Linked DNA regions of Homo sapiens: region 2 is linked to region 1. A link means that fine-mapping ties the variant in region 1 to the expression of a gene that starts in the linked region. Tissue or cell type: prefrontal cortex. Region 1 holds a variant in brackets; the other region holds the start of a gene. All regions are shown on one strand. Distances are from middle to middle. Region 1 overlaps FANCA (FA complementation group A). Region 2 holds the start of SPIRE2 (spire type actin nucleation factor 2).

Evidence for each region. PIP is the estimated chance that this variant, and not a neighbour inherited with it, causes the effect.
Region 2: SPIRE2 starts here. The variant in region 1 is fine-mapped to the expression of SPIRE2 in prefrontal cortex (GTEx, PIP 0.91).

What each region holds. Positions count from the first base shown.
Region 1 is chr16:89,804,613-89,812,612 of GRCh38, reverse strand. It overlaps FANCA (FA complementation group A), which reads left to right. Exons shown (of 43, transcript NM_000135.4): 4 at 1,542-1,684; 5 at 1,811-1,906; 6 at 4,246-4,319; 7 at 7,221-7,333. Among named protein-coding and RNA genes, the nearest start is that of FANCA, 8.0 kb to the left of the region's middle. RefSeq lists an enhancer at 5,547-6,069. The variant C/T (reference allele first, on the strand shown) is at 4,936.
Region 2 is chr16:89,823,818-89,832,331 of GRCh38, reverse strand. SPIRE2 (spire type actin nucleation factor 2) reads right to left here and starts at 3,857. Exons shown (of 15, transcript NM_032451.2): 1 at 3,538-3,857. The coding sequence starts at 3,781. RefSeq lists a silencer at 3,714-3,803.

The DNA.
Region 1 (8,000 bases):
GTGCAATGGTGTGATCTCGACTCACCGCAACCTCTGCCTCCCTAGTTAAAGTGATTCTCCTGCCTCAGCCTCCTGAGTAGCTGGTATTACAGGCATGCACCACCACGCCTGGCTAATTTTGTATTTTTAGTAGAGATAGGGTTTCACCATGTTGGTCAGGCTGGTCTCAAACTCCCGACCTCAGGTGATCCACCCGCCTCGGCCTCCCAAAGTGCTGGGATTACAGGAGGGACCCACTGAGCCTGGCCTCCAGTTTTTTTTTGTTTTGTTTTTTTGAGATGAAGTCTGGCTCTGTCGCCCAGACTGCAGTGTAGTGGCGTGATCTCGGCTCACTGCAAACTCCGCCTCCTGGGTTCACGCCATTCTTCGCCTCAGCCTCCTGAGTAGCTGGGACTACAGGCTCCCGTCACCAAACCTGGCTAATTTTGTTTTTGTGTCTTTAGTAGAGACAGGGTTTCACCGTGTTAGCCAGGATGGTCTCGATCTCCTGACCTTGTAATCCGCCCGCCTCGGCCTCCCAAAGTGCTGGGATTACAGGCGTGAGCCACCGTGCCCGGCCCGGTTTCTTTAAACAATTAATTTTGGCTCACGTGGTGGCTCACACCTGTAATCCCAGCAGTATGGGAGGCCGAGGCGGGCGGATTAATGAGGTTGGGAATTGGAGACGAGCCTAGCCAACATAGTGAAACCCCATCTCTACTAAAAATACAAAAAATTAACTGGGCGTAGTGACGCGTGCCTGTAATCCCAGCTACTTGGGAGGCTGAGGCAGGAGAATCGCTTGAACCTGAGAGGCGGAGGTTGCAGTGAGCTGAGATGGCGCCGTTGCACTTCAGTCCAGGCGGCAGTGTAAGACACCATTGCAAAAAAATAAAACAAAAAAAAATTAATTTTGGAAGACAAATAAATTAGAAAATGATTTCTTGGCATTGCCTGCTTCCAGGTTGCCCACCGTTTCTCACTTTATTGAATGCAGACCAGTGGCTGGTTGCTCAGGAGAATGGTGGCTGCCTGCAGGCTGTTAGTGAGGTTCCACTTGGTGGCCTGCGGACTGAGCACAGCTGTGACTGCACCTGCCCACCAGGTGCATGGCAGAATGTTGGGAAATCCCTGCCTAATTTTATCACAACCATCAATGTGAGTCAACAGGGGCAGGCTTATCTCTGAAGTAATTAGAAAAACAATGTAATTGAAAGAGCCTGCTGCAGTTCTCAATTTATTGTGCTCCTTTGTAAAAAGATGATAAAGTTCTTGGTCAGAATATATTTCTTTATCTTGCTCCTTTTGTGTCATGGGAAACGTAACAAATACCAATGTATAACTCTGGGTTCAGGTGTTGCCACCAGTTTTATTGTGAGCTGCTTGGATCATCAAATTCTCATTTTTATCTCATGTTTTTCCCTTTGCATCTATTCTCCCCGTTTAAAAGGCAATTTTTTTTGTGCTGCATCTTAAAATAAGGCATTTTAAACAGCAAGTCTTTGGTTTTAGATTTTGTCTCATGTGTTAAGAGAAAGCTATGGTTTTGTTTTGTGTTTAAGGCTCTGCTTTGCAGGATCAAGCCTCAAGGCTGGGGGTTCCCGTGGGTATTCTCTCAGCCGGGATGGTTGCCTCTAGCGTGGGACAGATCTGCACGGCTCCAGCGGAGACCAGTCACCCTGTGCTGCTGACTGTGGAGCAGAGAGTAAGACACCAGCAAAGATGAGGAAACCTGCCCGTTGTTACTTTTAAGCTGGTTGGGAAAATAGGACATAGCTTTAGTATTGTTTCAGGTAATTTGTTTTTTAAAAAATGTAATCTCTCTTTTCAGAAGAAGCTGTCTTCCCTGTTAGAGTTTGCTCAGTATTTATTGGCACACAGTATGTTCTCCCGTCTTTCCTTCTGTCAAGAATTATGGAAAATACAGGTAAATTTGAGATTGCAAATCTGACTCTCCAGTGTTCCAGGCAATGTTCTGTTGATCTGGATGGAGGCAACAGAGTACCTGGGTTTTCTTGGGAATTCTCCAAGCTTCTCATTAATTACAGAGAGTGGATGAAAAAGGGTTTAGAAATCATCTGTGGATTGGAAAGAAGTACCTTCAATTGCCATTTTTTGTCCCTATTCACCTATCATTAGTAATATTTATTAGACTAGAATATATTGAAAAACACGTTTAGCCTTGGGTATATTAGTATGGAGAATTTTCCAGGGTAGTATAGTAAACTATTAAAAAAAAATGTATGTAATTTTTTTTTCCAGAGACAGGGTCTCGCCTTGTTGCCCAGGCTGGTCTTTTTTTTTTTTTTTTGAGACGAAGTCTCGCTCTGTCGCACAGGCTGGAGTGCAGTGGCGTGATCTTGGCTCACTGCAAGCCCCACCTCCCAGGTTCACGCCATTCTCCTGCCTCAGCCTCCCGAGTAGCTGGGACTACAGGTGACTGCCACCACGCCCAGCTAATTTTTTGTATTTTTTAGCAGAGACGGGGTTTCACCGTGTTAGCCAGGATGGTCTCGATCTCCTGACCTCGTGATCTGCCCACCTCGGCCTCCCAAAGTGCTGGGATTACAAGTGTGAGCCACCGCGCCTGGCATTTATTTTTATTTTTGAGACAGAATATTGCTCTGCCGCCCAGGCTGGAGTGCAGTGGCGCAATCTTGGCTCACTGCAACGTCTGCCTCCCAGGTTCAAGCGATTGTCCTGCCTCAGCCACCTTAGTAGCTGGGATTACAGGCGCGTGCCACCATGCCCAGTTAATTTTTGTATCTTTTTTTTTTTTTGAGATGGAGTTTTGCTCTTGTTGCCCAGGCTGGAGTGCAATGGTGCTATCTTGGCTTATCGCAACGTCCGCCTCCCGGGTTCACGCCATTCTCCCGCCTCAGCCTCCCGAGTAGCTGGGATTACAGGCATGCGCCACCATGCCTGGCTAATTTTTTTTGTATTTTTAGTAGAGACGGGGTTTCTCCATGTTGGTCAGGCTGGTCTCAAACTCCTGACCTCAGATGATCTGCCCACCTCGGCCTCCCAAAGTGCCGGGATTACAGGTGTGAGTCACCGCGCCCTGCCCAATTTTTGTATCTTTAGTAGAGATGAGGTTTCACCATGTTGGCCAGGCTGGTCTTCAATTCCTGACCTCAGGTGATCTGCCCATCTTGGCCTCCCAAGTGCTGGGATTACAGGTGTGAGCCACTGCGTCCGGCCTTTCCCATTCTTTTATCCAGCATACATTATAGAATTCATTAGATTTTTCAGTTATTGCTTTGGTCCCTGCCCTCATTATCACGTAGCTTGGGAAACAAGCCACTAAATCCACAAGAAGTGCGATGATTCATGTGCTCACAGATTTGCGAAGAAGATGTTGGACATGCATATCAGATTGGAGAGTTAGGAAAGCCTTCCTGCACGGACTGTGAAGAGTGCGAGTTAGGGGCCGGGCCCAGTGGCTCACACCTGTAATCCCAGCACTTTGGGAGGCCGAGGCAGGTGGATCATGAGGTCAGGAGATCGAGCCCATCCTGGCTAACACGGTGAAACCCCGTCTCTACTAAAAAATAGAAAAAATTAGCCGGGTGTGGTGGCAGGCACCTGTAGTCCCAGCTACTCAGGAGGCTGAGGCAGGAGAATGGCGTGAACCCGGGAGGCAGAGCTTACAGTGACCCGAGATGGCGCCACTGCACTCCAGCCTGGGTGACAGAGCGCGACTCTGTCTCAAAAAAAAAAAAATAGAGTGTGAGTTAGGGGGATGAGAAGGGGAGGCTGCAGGGAGATCAGGGCAGTGTGACAGGCACAGTGTTCACAGTGAGTGGCTAAAGCAGATCCTGTTTTATCAAATGGGAGAGGGTTGAGTGAGAAAGACAAGGGACATGCACAGGGCACACTGAAGCCTGACCTTTGTCCTGGCAGCTTCGAGGAGCCAGTGAAGGCTTCTGAAGGAGAGACTGTCATGTCAGTGTGTGTAATACTGTGTTGGCTGTAGTGTGGAGAAAGGGTTAGAAGTAGGCTACAGTGCGTAGGAAGAGAGAAGGAAGAGAAGCAAGTGTTGGGCAACGGTGTGTGGGTGCCCAAAGGCCAGGGAGTTTGAAAACCAGTACAGCTTTGTAAAAAAAGATGTGTTTCAGGCTCTAAGTTTTTGCTTGAGGTTAATTTTCAATACGGCATGGTTAAGAACCTAAGTTGAACATTTTGTAGGAAAATGCATTCATAAAGGACTCAGAATGCTGGGGGTTTTTTTGTTTTTGTTTTTGTTTGTTTTGTTTTGTTTTTCAGAGTTCTTTGTTGCTTGAAGCGGTGTGGCATCTTCACGTACAAGGCATTGTGAGCCTGCAAGAGCTGCTGGAAAGGTAGCGTGCTAATGATGATTCAGTGTTACTGTTTTTGCAGTCTAGTCTAGTATAAATTATATTTCAAAGCCCAGAATCAGACGGGTTTGATTTCTGGCTTTGACATATAATTTGTACTAGACTAGATTGCATTGCATATTTATACTAGACTAGACCTGGAGGAACTATTGCTTTATTATTTCAAGAGAACGTTTATGGTGTTTTGGTTTTGTTTGCTTTTTGTCTGTTTTTTTTTTGAGACGGAGTCTCGCTCTGTGGCCCAGGTGGGAGTGCAGTGGCACGATTTCAGCTCACTACAACCTCCACCTCCAGGGTTCAAGCAATTCTCCTGCCTCAGCCTCCCAAGTCGCTGGGATTACAGGCGCCCGCCACCACACGCAGCTAATTTTTGTTATGTATTTATTTTTTTTAGGGACAGAGTCTCGTTCTGTCACCCAGGCTGGAGTGCAGTGACGTGATGTCGGCTCACTGCAGGCTCCACCTCCCGGGTTCACGCCATTCTCCTGCCTCAGCTTCCCGAGTAGCTGGGACTACAGGCGTCCGCCACCACGCCTGGCTAATTTTTGTATTTTTAGTAGAGACTGGGTTTCACCATGTTAGCCAGGATGGGCTCCAT[C/T]TCCTGACTTCAGGATCTGCCCGCCTCTGCCTCCCAAAGCGCTGGGATTACAGGCATGAACCACTGTGCCTGGCAATTTTTGTTATTTTTAGTAGAGATGTGGTTTCGCCATGTTAGCCAGGCTGGTGTCAAACTCCTAACCTCAGGTGATTCCCCTGCCTCGGCCTCCCAAAGTGCTGGGATTACAGGCATGAGCCACCTCGCGCGGCCTTTTTTTTTCTTTTTGAGACAGAGACCTGCTATGTCGCCAGGCTGGAGTGCAGTGGTGAGATCTGGGCTCGCTGCAACCTCCGCTTCCCGGATTCAAGCAATTCTGCCCCTGCCTCCTCAGTAGCTGGGACTACAGGCGCGTGCCACCACACCCGGCTAATTTTTGTATGTTTAGTAGAGATGGGGTTTCACCATGTTGGCTAGGCTGGTCTCGAACTCCTGATCTTGTGATCCTCCCGCCTCGGCCTAGAGCAGAATTTCATCTCAAAAAAAAAAAAAAAAAGAAAAACCTGCTTCCTAGGATATACACATCTTATCTCAGCACCAAAATCTATGAAGCAAAAATGGCCAGAATTAAAGGGAGAAGTAGACATTTCAGCAATAATCATTAGAGGTTTCAATACTCCCCTTTCAGTAATGGGTAGAACAAGTTAGATTAAGAATGATATAGAACAGCCGCCCCGTCCGGGAGGGAGGTGGGGGAGTCAGCCCCCCGCCCGGCCAGCCGCCCTGTCCAGGAGGTGAGGGGCGCCTCTGCCCGGCCGCCCATACTGGGAAGTGAGGAGCCCCTCTACCCGGCCACCACCCCGTCTGGGAGGTGTACCCAACAGCTCATTGAGAACGGGCCATGATGACAATGGCGGTTTTATGGAATACAAAGGGGGGAAGGGTGGGGAAAAGATTGCGAAATCAGATGGTTGCTGTGTCTGTGTAGAAAGAAGTAGACACGGGAGACTTTTCATTTTGTTCTGTACTAAGAGAAATTCTTCTGCCTTGGGATCCTGTTGATCTGTGACCTTGCCCCCAACCCTGTGCTCTCTGAAACATGTGCTGTGTCCACTCAGGGTTAAATGGATTAAGGGCGGTGCAAGATATGCTTTGTTAAACAGATGCTTGAAGGCAGCATGCTCGTTAAGAGTCATCACCACTCCCTAATCTCAAGTACCCAGGGACACAAACACTGCAGAAGGCCTCAGGGTCCTCTGCCTAGGAAAACCAGAGACCTTTGTTCACTTGTTTATCTGCTGACCTTCCCTCCACCATTGTCCTATGACCCTGCCAAATCCCCCTCTGCGAGAAACACCCAAGAATGATCAATTAAAAAAAAAAAAAAAAAAAAGAATGATATAGAAGTTGAATGCTGCAAACCAGCTGACCTGACTGACTGTGGAGCACTCTACCCAGTAGTAGCAGAGTGTGTATTCGTAAGTCCAAATGGAACAGTCCCCAGGATACAGCATAAGGTTCAGGCCAAGGCCAGGTGCGGTGGCTCACACCTGTAATCCCAGCACTTTGGGAGGCTGAGGCGGGCAGATCACCTGAGGTCAGGAGTTCAAGACCAGCCTGTCCAACGTGGTGAAACCCTGTCTCTACTAAAATTACAAAAATTAGCTGGGCAAGGTGGCAGGTGCCTGTAATCCCAGCCGTTGTGGAGGCTGAGGCAGGAGAATCGCTTGAACTTGGGAGGCGGAGGTTGTAGTGAGCTGAGATTGTGCCATTGCACTCCAGCCTGGATGACAAGAGCAAAACTGTTTCAAGAGAAAAAAAAAAGGTTCAGGCCATAAAACAAAGAGGAATAAATTTAGAAGGGCTGAAATCATTCAAAATATGTTCTCTAACCACAAATGAATTTAATTAGAATAAACAACAGAAGGGAATTGGGAAAATCCACAATATTTGAAAGTTAACATAATGAGTCAAAGAAGTCACAAGGGAAATTAGAAAATAACTTGAGACTGGGCACAGTGCCACACCAGTCATCCCAGCACTTTGGGAGGGCAAGGTGGGAGATTGTTTTGAGCCCGGGAGTTTGAGTCCAGCCTGGGCAAAGTAGTAAGACCTCCAGCTGGGCGTGGTGGTATGCGCCTGTTGTCCCAACTACTCAGGAGGCTGAGGTGGAAGGATTGCTTGAGCCTGGGAGGTCGAGGGTGCAGTGACTGATTGCGCCACTGCACTCCAGCCTCAGTGACAGCAAAAAACTGTCTCAAAAAAAAAATTGGGACATATGGCTCAACTCAATCCCCTGATGATGGGATTTAGTTGAGCCTTACGTCTGCCTCTGTGTGTGTCTCCAGCCATCCCGACATGCATGCTGTGGGATCGTGGCTCTTCAGGAATCTGTGCTGCCTTTGTGAACAGATGGAAGCATCCTGCCAGCATGCTGACGTCGCCAGGGCCATGCTTTCTGGTGCGTTCATGACAAGATGCGGGTTCTTGGGTAAAACTCATTTTGATCTGTGATAATGCCTTCTGCTCTCAAGAGCTCTGCGAGGCAGAACAGCCTGTCTCTCCGTGGCCGTGGGAACCTGGCATGACAGACTCCCAGTCTCAGCCTGTTGTGGGGTTGCATTTTACTTGACTGATGTGGAAATACTAGTAAGTCGGCCTTGACATGAGTTTAAGTGTTTCCATTCACCTTTCCCATAGAGTGACCGCAGCTGCTTCCTTCTGTCGCCCAGGCTGGAGTACAGTGGCGCGATCTCAGCTCACTGCAACCTCCGCCTCCTGGGTTCAAGTGATTCTCTGCCTCAACCTCCTTAGTAGCTGGGACTGCAGGCACGTGGCACCATGCCCGGCTAATTTTTTTTTTGTATTTTTAGTAGAGACGGGGTTTCATTAGGTTGGCCAGGCTGCTCTTGAACTCCTGACCTCGTGATGCACCCCCCTCGGCCTCCCAAAGTGCTGGGATTATAGGCGTGAGCCACTATGCCTGGCCTTCCTGAGGAATGATATTATGAGAAAAACTTGGGACTGTAATGTCCCCCCACAAACTAAGAAGGTGCTGAGAGACCAGAGGATGGCTCAGACTAGGGACCAACCCAGTTTGAGGAGTAGTTGGGTTTGTCAGAAGATGG
Region 2 (8,514 bases), 19 kb before region 1:
TCACCAGACAGTCCTGGCCACTGAGGAGGCCCAGCCAGCCCAGATCCAGCGGCAGAACAGGCAGGCTGGCTGCGGGCTCGAGGCCACGGTGCTCCTCGGCAAAGGTGGACTCCAGCACAGACACACAAACGGGCTTCCGTGGGTGAAAAGGATGCCCCTTCACATGGGCCGTAACCATGGGGTGCTTCCTGGGCCCAGAGCCCCTCTCTTGCCTCACGCGGGCACGCGCTGCCATCACTCCGCCTTGAGGAGGAATGGGAGCAAGAAGCTGGGGCCTGCTCATCAGCACGGCGCGGGATGGAGGGAACCAGAGGAGGGAAGAGCTTCGCCCTCTGCAGAGCTCTGGACGTGGACACGGTGCCCCGTGCTGCCTAGATCACTATGGATGTTTCTGTTTAGAACACAGGCCGCGAGATGAACAGGTTGGGAAGGCTTAGACATCTGGGAGTGCGCGGGGCTGCGAAACAGCAGAACCCCAGAGCCAGTGCTCTAAGGGTGCCTTAGAGGCAGATGGCCTGAGAGCCGGGCAGAAGGGGGAGGGGCAGGAGAAAGGGCGGGGGATACCTGGAGGACCAGCAACGTGGGGCATCCTAGCGTAAAGAGCGGGGCCTGCCTGTGAAAAAGTTTAGCATCCAGGCCAGGCGTGGTGGCTTACGCCTGTAATCCCAGCACTTTGGGAGGCCGAGGTGGGCGGATCATGAGGTCAGGAGATCGAGACCATTCTGGCTAACACAGTGAAACCCAGTCTCTACTAAAAATACAAAAAATTAGCCGGGCGTGGTGGCGGGCGCATGTAGTCCCAGCTACTCGGGACGCTGAGGCAGGAGAATGGCGTGAACCCAGTAGGCGAAGCTTGCAGTGAGCCGAGAACGCGCCACTGCACTCCAGCCTGGGCGACAGAGCGAGACTGTCTCATAAAAAAAAAAAAAAAAGAAAGAAAGAAAAAAAGTTTAGCATCCAAAGTTGACAAGAAAAAACATTCAAAAAATAGGGTCACGTGTAAAGTAGCCAATCAGGGTGAAGAGGGCAGGTGACGGAAGGAAGGGCCATCCCACCCACCTTGCACATGGACCACACAGACCCTCATTAGCACCACGTCTGAGATGTATTTGAGAAACCACCCAGCTGGGCGCAGTGGCTCACGCCTGTAATCCCAGCACTTTGGAAGGCCGAGGTGGGCAGATCACGAGGTCAGGAGATCGAGACCATCCTGGCTAACACGGTGAAACCCCGTCTCTACTAAAAATACAAAAAATTAGCCGGGCGTGGTGGCGGGCGCCTGTAGTCCCAGCTACTCGGGAGGCTGAGGCAGGAGAATGGCGTGAACCCGGGAGGTGGAGCTTGCAGTGAGCAGAGATTGTGCCGCTGCACTCCAGCCTGGGCAACAGAGCGAGACTCCCTCTCAAAAAAAAAAAAAAAAAAAGATTCTAAGCAGTTACAAAGTCTTCAGAGTAAAGATTAGGAAGTCTCTTCTAGTCATTTTTTTCCTAATCTTGGCTTGGAAATGAGAAGTATTACTACTTGTGTGCTAAGATAATATTATTCATCCTCCTAAGTATGGTCTAGTTTGTTGTTGGTTTTTTTCAAAGTGGTTTTACACACCTACTGCCCATATTCAGTTTGTGTGAGAGGGTGGGTACTGAAGACCCAAGGTTACAGGTTGAGAAATTCAACTGGAGCAAAAAACTGAGACTACAATGCCAACAAGTGAGATTGGATGTTTTCCTATTGATATCTACAGGGAGAAATAAGTATGCATCTTTTAATGTATTTACTTATCACTTAAGTCCCAGAGAAAGGCTGGGTTAGCCACCTTTGAGGAGACAGCTGGCCTGATGTCTCAGCTGACTCAGAAGCACCACAAGGATGGCACAGAAAGTTCAGGGTAATAGATTTTTCTTAAACCTTCAAGAGAGAGCAAGTCATAAAACTCATTCGCCTTCATGAGACAGGGTTATGAACAGAAAACAAAGATCGTTATCAAATAAAAAATGAACTGGACCACAGGTGGGTACCACCCCCTAAGGTCAACACAGTGCCCTACCTGAACTTTGAACCCCAGCCAGGAACTGCTGCCGGGGCTGTGAGGACCAGGAAGGGGCCACACCACCCAGGGATGGAGGTGGAGAGAATCAGATCACTGCTCTGAGGACGCCTTGCACAGCACCAACAGGAAGCAGGCGGCTGGGCTCCCGCACAGCTAGGACAAATGAGGAGCTCTGGATTCTAACCACCCGGCAAACCACTTACCACTGTGTGCCTCGGTTTCCCCATCTTTACAGTCAGAGGGTCAGACGAACCAGGCTGCCTACAGCCTCCTCCTGCTCTGCACTTATCTCCAGGAATGGGGTGAAGTCCAGGCACCCTTTCACAGAGGCTCTGTGAGCATGCAGCCTCCTGGGCCCCATGCACCTGCCGTCTCACCCCACCCTCTGGGCGGCAGTGGGCACAGCCCTGAGGGACGCCACAGTGAATCTGAACGCTGCCACTGTCTGAGTGCCAGCGCAAGCCTGCGCCTCAGGTTTCTCCAGAGGGAGTAAAACCTCAGGGCCTGCTCTTGCTGTCACCTGTGTGGGATACTGCAAATGGCAGGAGTGTGGAGGCAGCTGAGGGGGGGGCTCCAGGATGAGCAGGACCTGGTGAAGGAACAAGGGCCCTTGGGTGGGGCACAACGGCCCCCACCCCTCGTGGCTCTGTAGCTTGCTTCTGTCTGGCCTTGCCCTGGCCCTTCCTGGTCCTCCACATAGGCCTGCTCATGCAAACCCACAGCTCTCAGGCCTGGAGAGAGTGCGGCAAACACACAGCCTGCCTCTGCCCCCCGGCAGGGTACCAGCTTTTGGGGTCATATCACATGCTCCAAGCCAGCACTCCAGCTCTCCAGGGAAGAAATCACTTTCGGTTTTTTTCGTAAAGGGTAAATAATCACTTAAGCTCACCATTCTCACTAACTTCAAGTATCTTTCTAGGGCTTAATTGTTGGTTCTGGTTGATGGTTAAGAATAGAAACACCAAGCAGGTTGTCCCCCCAACTTTACACACCCCTTCCTCTCCCAGTTAAACCCAGGAATTTAGTGTCAGTTCAGACGCCAAGTGAGGCGCAGCCCCCCACCTTCCACCCAGGAGAAAATGCCCCAAGGGGACGCTTCTGTCTCCTTTCCTGCTGAAGGCAGGGGAGGAGTCGCCCCAGCAAAGGCCAGCTCCGTGCTCCCTGAGCCACCGGCCCAAGTCCCTCTCCCGGAGGAAGCCAGGCCACTGGGGAGCAGCCCGCTCCGCGCTGGGAGAGGCGTCAGGTGGGGGGGTCCGGGAGGGGAACGTCCAGGGCCGGGGAGGGAGAGGAAGGAGGGAGAGAAGGAGGGAGGAAAGAGAGAGGGAAAGAGGGACGGAGAGTGGGAGGGAGGGAGCTCCGGGTCCCGCAGAGAAGGGGATCTCCCGCTCCAGAACCGGTCGCAGCCTCTCCGCCGGGACCACCCCCACCCAGGGGGCGGGACGGACGCCCCAGACCGCGGTCCCCGCCGGCTGCCCCGCCCCCGGCCTCACCCGCGGCCTCGGGCTCCCGCGCCCCGACCGAGCCGTCCCCGCGCAGCAGGAGGTCCCCGGTATCCCGCAGGCGCCGGCCCGGCGAGCCCCGCAGCCCGCGGCAGCCCTGGAAGCACACGGCCCACGCCTGCTCCTCGTTGAGCGGCTGCTCGTAGGCCTTCAGCACCTCCTCCAGGGACAGCTCCCAGGGCTCCGGCCGCCCTGCGCCCGCCGCGGCGCCGCCGCAGCTGCCCGCCCGGGCCATGGCGGGGCCGTCATCGCCTCCCGCGCGCCGGACCCGCGTCCATGCAGCCGCGCCTTCCGCCGCGCAGGGTCAGCCTGGCCGCCCCGCCCCGCGCGAGCGCCTCAGGTTGGGGGCGGGGCGGCGACGGGGGCGGGGCGCGGAGGGCGCGGGGGGCGGGGCGCGGAGGGGGAGGGACGCGGGGCGGGGCGGGGAGTGGAGGGCGCGCGGGGAGAGGCCCGGAGGGGGACGGGTGAGGGGCAGGGCGGGGCGCGGGTAGGTGCGGAGGGGCTGGGGCTCAGGGCTGGGGACGCGGGGGCGCGGGGCCGAGGCCGGGGTGCGAACCCCTCCGGGGTGCTGGGCAGGACCGGGGGGAGGGTTGGGGGCTGCAGACATGGGCCAGGGCCCGCGCGCTCGGACACGCGGTGACACCCCCGGCGCTCCCCCGCAGACCCAGACGGCCGATGCCCACAAAAGCCCGGGCCGGCATCCAGCCCGGGACACTGCGGTGACCGCGGGGGGCCTGGGAGGTTTGCCGCTGGGAACGCGGGAGGGAGCCGGGAGGAGCTGAGCAGACAAAGCCCGCAGTGGCCTCCCCGAGCCCCGGGCAAGGTGACCTCCAGGGGTTGTCGCAGGGTGGCTGGGGTGAGGGCGACTCCCCGCATCCGGCCTTCGGGTATGAAGCCCTTAATAAATGCCTCTGCCTAGCAGGGAATGTGCCTGCAGTGACGTCTCCAGGGTGTCCGTGAAAAATAAACACACACGGTTGGCCAGTGATGGCGTGCATCGCATTTGGGGCGTGTTTGTGTCTTCAGGCCGGGTCACTCCTGGACACTGGGTGTTTGCCTGAGGGACGCAAGGGGAACTCGGCTGGGGCTCATCCCGAGGCCTCTTCATAGTTGTGCCAGATCTGAATAAGTGGGCAAGAAAATGCAGTTGGGGCATAAACGGTCCCAAGCCTGGGTGCTGCCAGTACCACCCGGGGGCAAGAAATGCAGATTCCTGGGCTCCAGGGCTGGAGATTCTGATGCAGGTCCGAGGTGAAACTTGGGGCACTTAAAGTTCGCTGGTCTCCCAGGAGTTCTGGACCTGCCTGGACAACACAGTGAGATCCCATCCCAGAAAAGAAGTTCCACAATGATTTTTTTTTCTTTTTTTTTTTTTAGAGACAAGGTCTCACCCAGGCTGAAGTGCAATGGTACAATCGTAGCTCACTATAACCTCAAATTCCTGGGGTCAAGTGATCCTCCCACGTCAGCTTCCTGAGTAGATGGGACTAAAGGCATGAACCACCACGCCCAGCTGATTGTTTTTATTTTTTGTGGAGATGGGATCTCACCATGTTGCCCAGGCTGGTCTTGAATTCCTGGGCTCAAGCAGTCAGGCCACCTTGGTCTCCCAAAGTACTGGGATTACAAGCGTGAGCAACCGCGCCCAGTCCAGCTGGACTTTTCTTTTCTTTCCCTTTCTTTTTTTTTTTTTTGAGAAGGAGTTTTGCTCTTATCGCCCAGGCTGGAGTGCAGTGGCGCAACCTTGGCTCACTGCAACCTCTACCTCCCAGATTCAAGCGTTTCTCCTGCCTCAGCCTCAAAGTAGCTGGAACTACAGGCGCCCACCACCACACCCGGGTAATTTTTTGGGTGGTTTCGCCATGTCGGCCAGGCCGGTCTCGAAATCCTGACCTCAGGTGATCCCCCTGCCTCAGCCTCCCAGGGTGCTGGGGTTGCAGGCATGAGCCATGTCGTCCCGTCCAGCTGGACTTTTCATCTGTAAGCAGAAAGGAGGCTGATGATGACGAATTGTGCCTAAAGTTTGTTTGTTTGTTTGTTTTGAGGCAGAGTCGCGCTCTGTTGCCCAGGCTAGAGTGCAGTGACGCGATCTCTGCTCACTGCAAGCTCCCCTCCCAGGTTTACGCCATTCTCCTGCCTCAGCCTCCTGAGTAGCTGAGACTACAGGCGCCTGCCACCACGCCCAGCTAATTTTTTGTATTTTTTTAGTAGAGACGGGGTTTCACTGTATTAGCTAGGATGGTCTCAATCTCCTGACCTCATGATCCGCCCGCCTCGGCCTCTCAAAGTGCTGGGATTACAGGCATGAGCCACTGTGCCCAGCCATGCCTAAAGTTTTTATAATCAACAGCGGGGCAACATTCACATCTTTTGTTGGTTCCCCAAGCTAAAACACAACCAAAAGTAACAGGAGTGGGCTGGGCACGGTGGCTCATGCCTGTAATCCCAGCACTTTGGGAGGCCGAGGCAACCCGATGGCTTGAACCCAGGAGTTCGAGACCTGCCAGGGCAACATGAGACCCTATCGCTACAAAACTTTAAAAACATTAGCCAGGTGTGGAGGTGTGTGCCGGTGGTCCCAGCTACTTGGGAGGGTAAGGCAGGAGGACCACTTGAGCCTGGGAGGTCGAGGTTGCAGTGCGCTGTGATTGCACCACTGCACTCCAGCCTGGGTGACGGTGAGACCCTGTCTCTAGTAAATAGATGCATAAAGACTAATAGGCGCAGTGGGGTTTTGCAGAAGGAAAATTGGAGATGAGCGGGGTGGGGATGGGGTGCCATGCCCTGAATACCATGTACCACAAACCTGGCACTCAAGCAGATCTCCCCTCCTGATTTGTCCCTGCCACCCGCAGCATGGGTACCAACGATGGGTAAGTTAGGAATTTCAAGTTCTGGCTTAGAAGAGCAACAGCAGAAAACCTTCCATGAGGCATCTTATTCCACAGGAGCAGCACGCTCTACATTCGTGGTAACCAAAGTCCCTGGCCCACACACTGCCAGGTGTGTGATGATGGGGAATTGTTCTCTGCTGATGTCTGAGGCTGATCCTTGGTCCCACACACAGGGTGGTTTCTCCCTTCAGAATGCACGGGGATAAAGACTTCCATTTGTGGCCGAGCGCGGTGGCTCACTCCTGTAATCCCAGCACTTTGGGAGGCCGAGGCGGATGGATCAAGAGGTCAGGAGATTGAGACTATCCTGGCTAACATGGTGAAACCCGTCTCTACTAAAAAACACAAAAAATTAGCCAGGAGTGGTGTCGGGTGCCTGTAGTTCCAGATACTGGGGAGGCTAAAGCAGGAGAATGGCGTGAACCCAGGAGGCGGAGCTTGCAGTGAGCCGAGATCGCGCCACTGCACTCCAGCCTGGGCGACAGAGCGAGACTCCATCTCAAAAATAAAAAAAGAAAAAAAAAAAGACTTCCATTTGCAACACCCCACTGAGTAGGTCTCACTGCTTCTTGCCAGAAGTCAAGGTGGGGGACATTGCTCTCACCACGACTGGCCACCACCCCAGAGCACTCTTTGGACGTGCAGCCTCATCACTGCCACAGTGCAGCACTGGCCGGGGACATTTGAGCAGAAGATGGTAATTACCCTAATGGGAAGCTGGCTGGGGCACAAGGGGACCTTCTCTCTTCCTCAAAGGGCCTCACGTGTCCCTTACCGACCACAAGGTTTTAGGGTGTAATTTGTGAGCTCAGTCCTCCAGCCACTGCTGCATCCTGGCAAGGACCTAGTGCTGACTCACCTGGCTGAACAGTGACCCTTGAGGTCACGTGAGTGGGGTACAGTGACCCTCTCTGAACTGGCATCCACCATCCTACCTGGGATCCCTATGGACTCACCAGCAGGACTTAGAACACTGAGATTTTAGTAAAAAATTTTAAAAGTTAGGGCTGGGCACGGTGGCTCAAGCCTGTAATCCCAGCACTTTGGGAGGCCAAGGGGGCAGATCACGAGGTCAGGAGTTCCAGACCAGCCTGGCCAATATGGTGAAACCCCATCTCTACTAGAAAAATAATTAAAAAAAAAAAAATTAGCAGGGCGTGGTGGCACATGCCTATAATCCCAGCTACTCGGGAGGCTGAGGCAGAAGAATTGCTTGAACCCAGGAGGCGGAGGTCGCAGTGAGCCGAGATCGCACCACTGCACTCCAGCCTGGGAAACAGAGCAAGACTCCATCTCAAAAAAAATAAAAAGAAATAAAACATGGCCGGGCATGGTGGCTCACACCTGTAATCCCAGCACTTTGGGAGGCCGAGGCAGGCAGATCACAAGGTCAGGAGATCAAGGCCATCCTGGCCAACACGGTGAAACCCCATCTCTACTAAAAATACAAAAGGCCAGGCACAGTGGCTCACGCCTGTAATCCCAGCACTTTGGGAGGCTGAGGCGGGCAGATCACGAGGTCAGGAGATCGAGACCATCCTGGCTAGCACGGTGAAACCCTGTCTCTACTAAAAATACAAAAAAATTAGCCGGGCGTGGTGGGGGGGTGCCTGTAGTCCCAGCTACTCGGGAGGCTGAGGCAGGAGAATGCCGTGAACCTGGGAGGTGGAGCTTGCAGTGAGCCAAGATTGCGCCACTGCATTGCAGCCTGGGCGACAGAGCGAGACTCTGTCTCAAAAAATAAATAAATAAAAAATAAAAATAAAAATACAAAAATTAGCTGGGCATGGTGGCACATGCCTGTAGTCCCAGCTACTCAGGAGGGTGAGGCAGGACAATCGCCTGAATCCAGGAGGCGGAGGTTGCAGTGAGCCGAGATCACACCACTGCACTCCAGCCTGGTGACACAGTGAGACTCTGTCTCAAAAAACAAACAAACAGAAAAAGGGACTCAACGAGAAGCACTGTAGAGATTGATGTAGGTCAGTCATTAAGTCAGCTTGGAAAGCTTTAGAGCAGGGGTGTCCAATCTTTTGGCTTCCCTGGACCACACTGGAAGACGAATTGTCTTGAG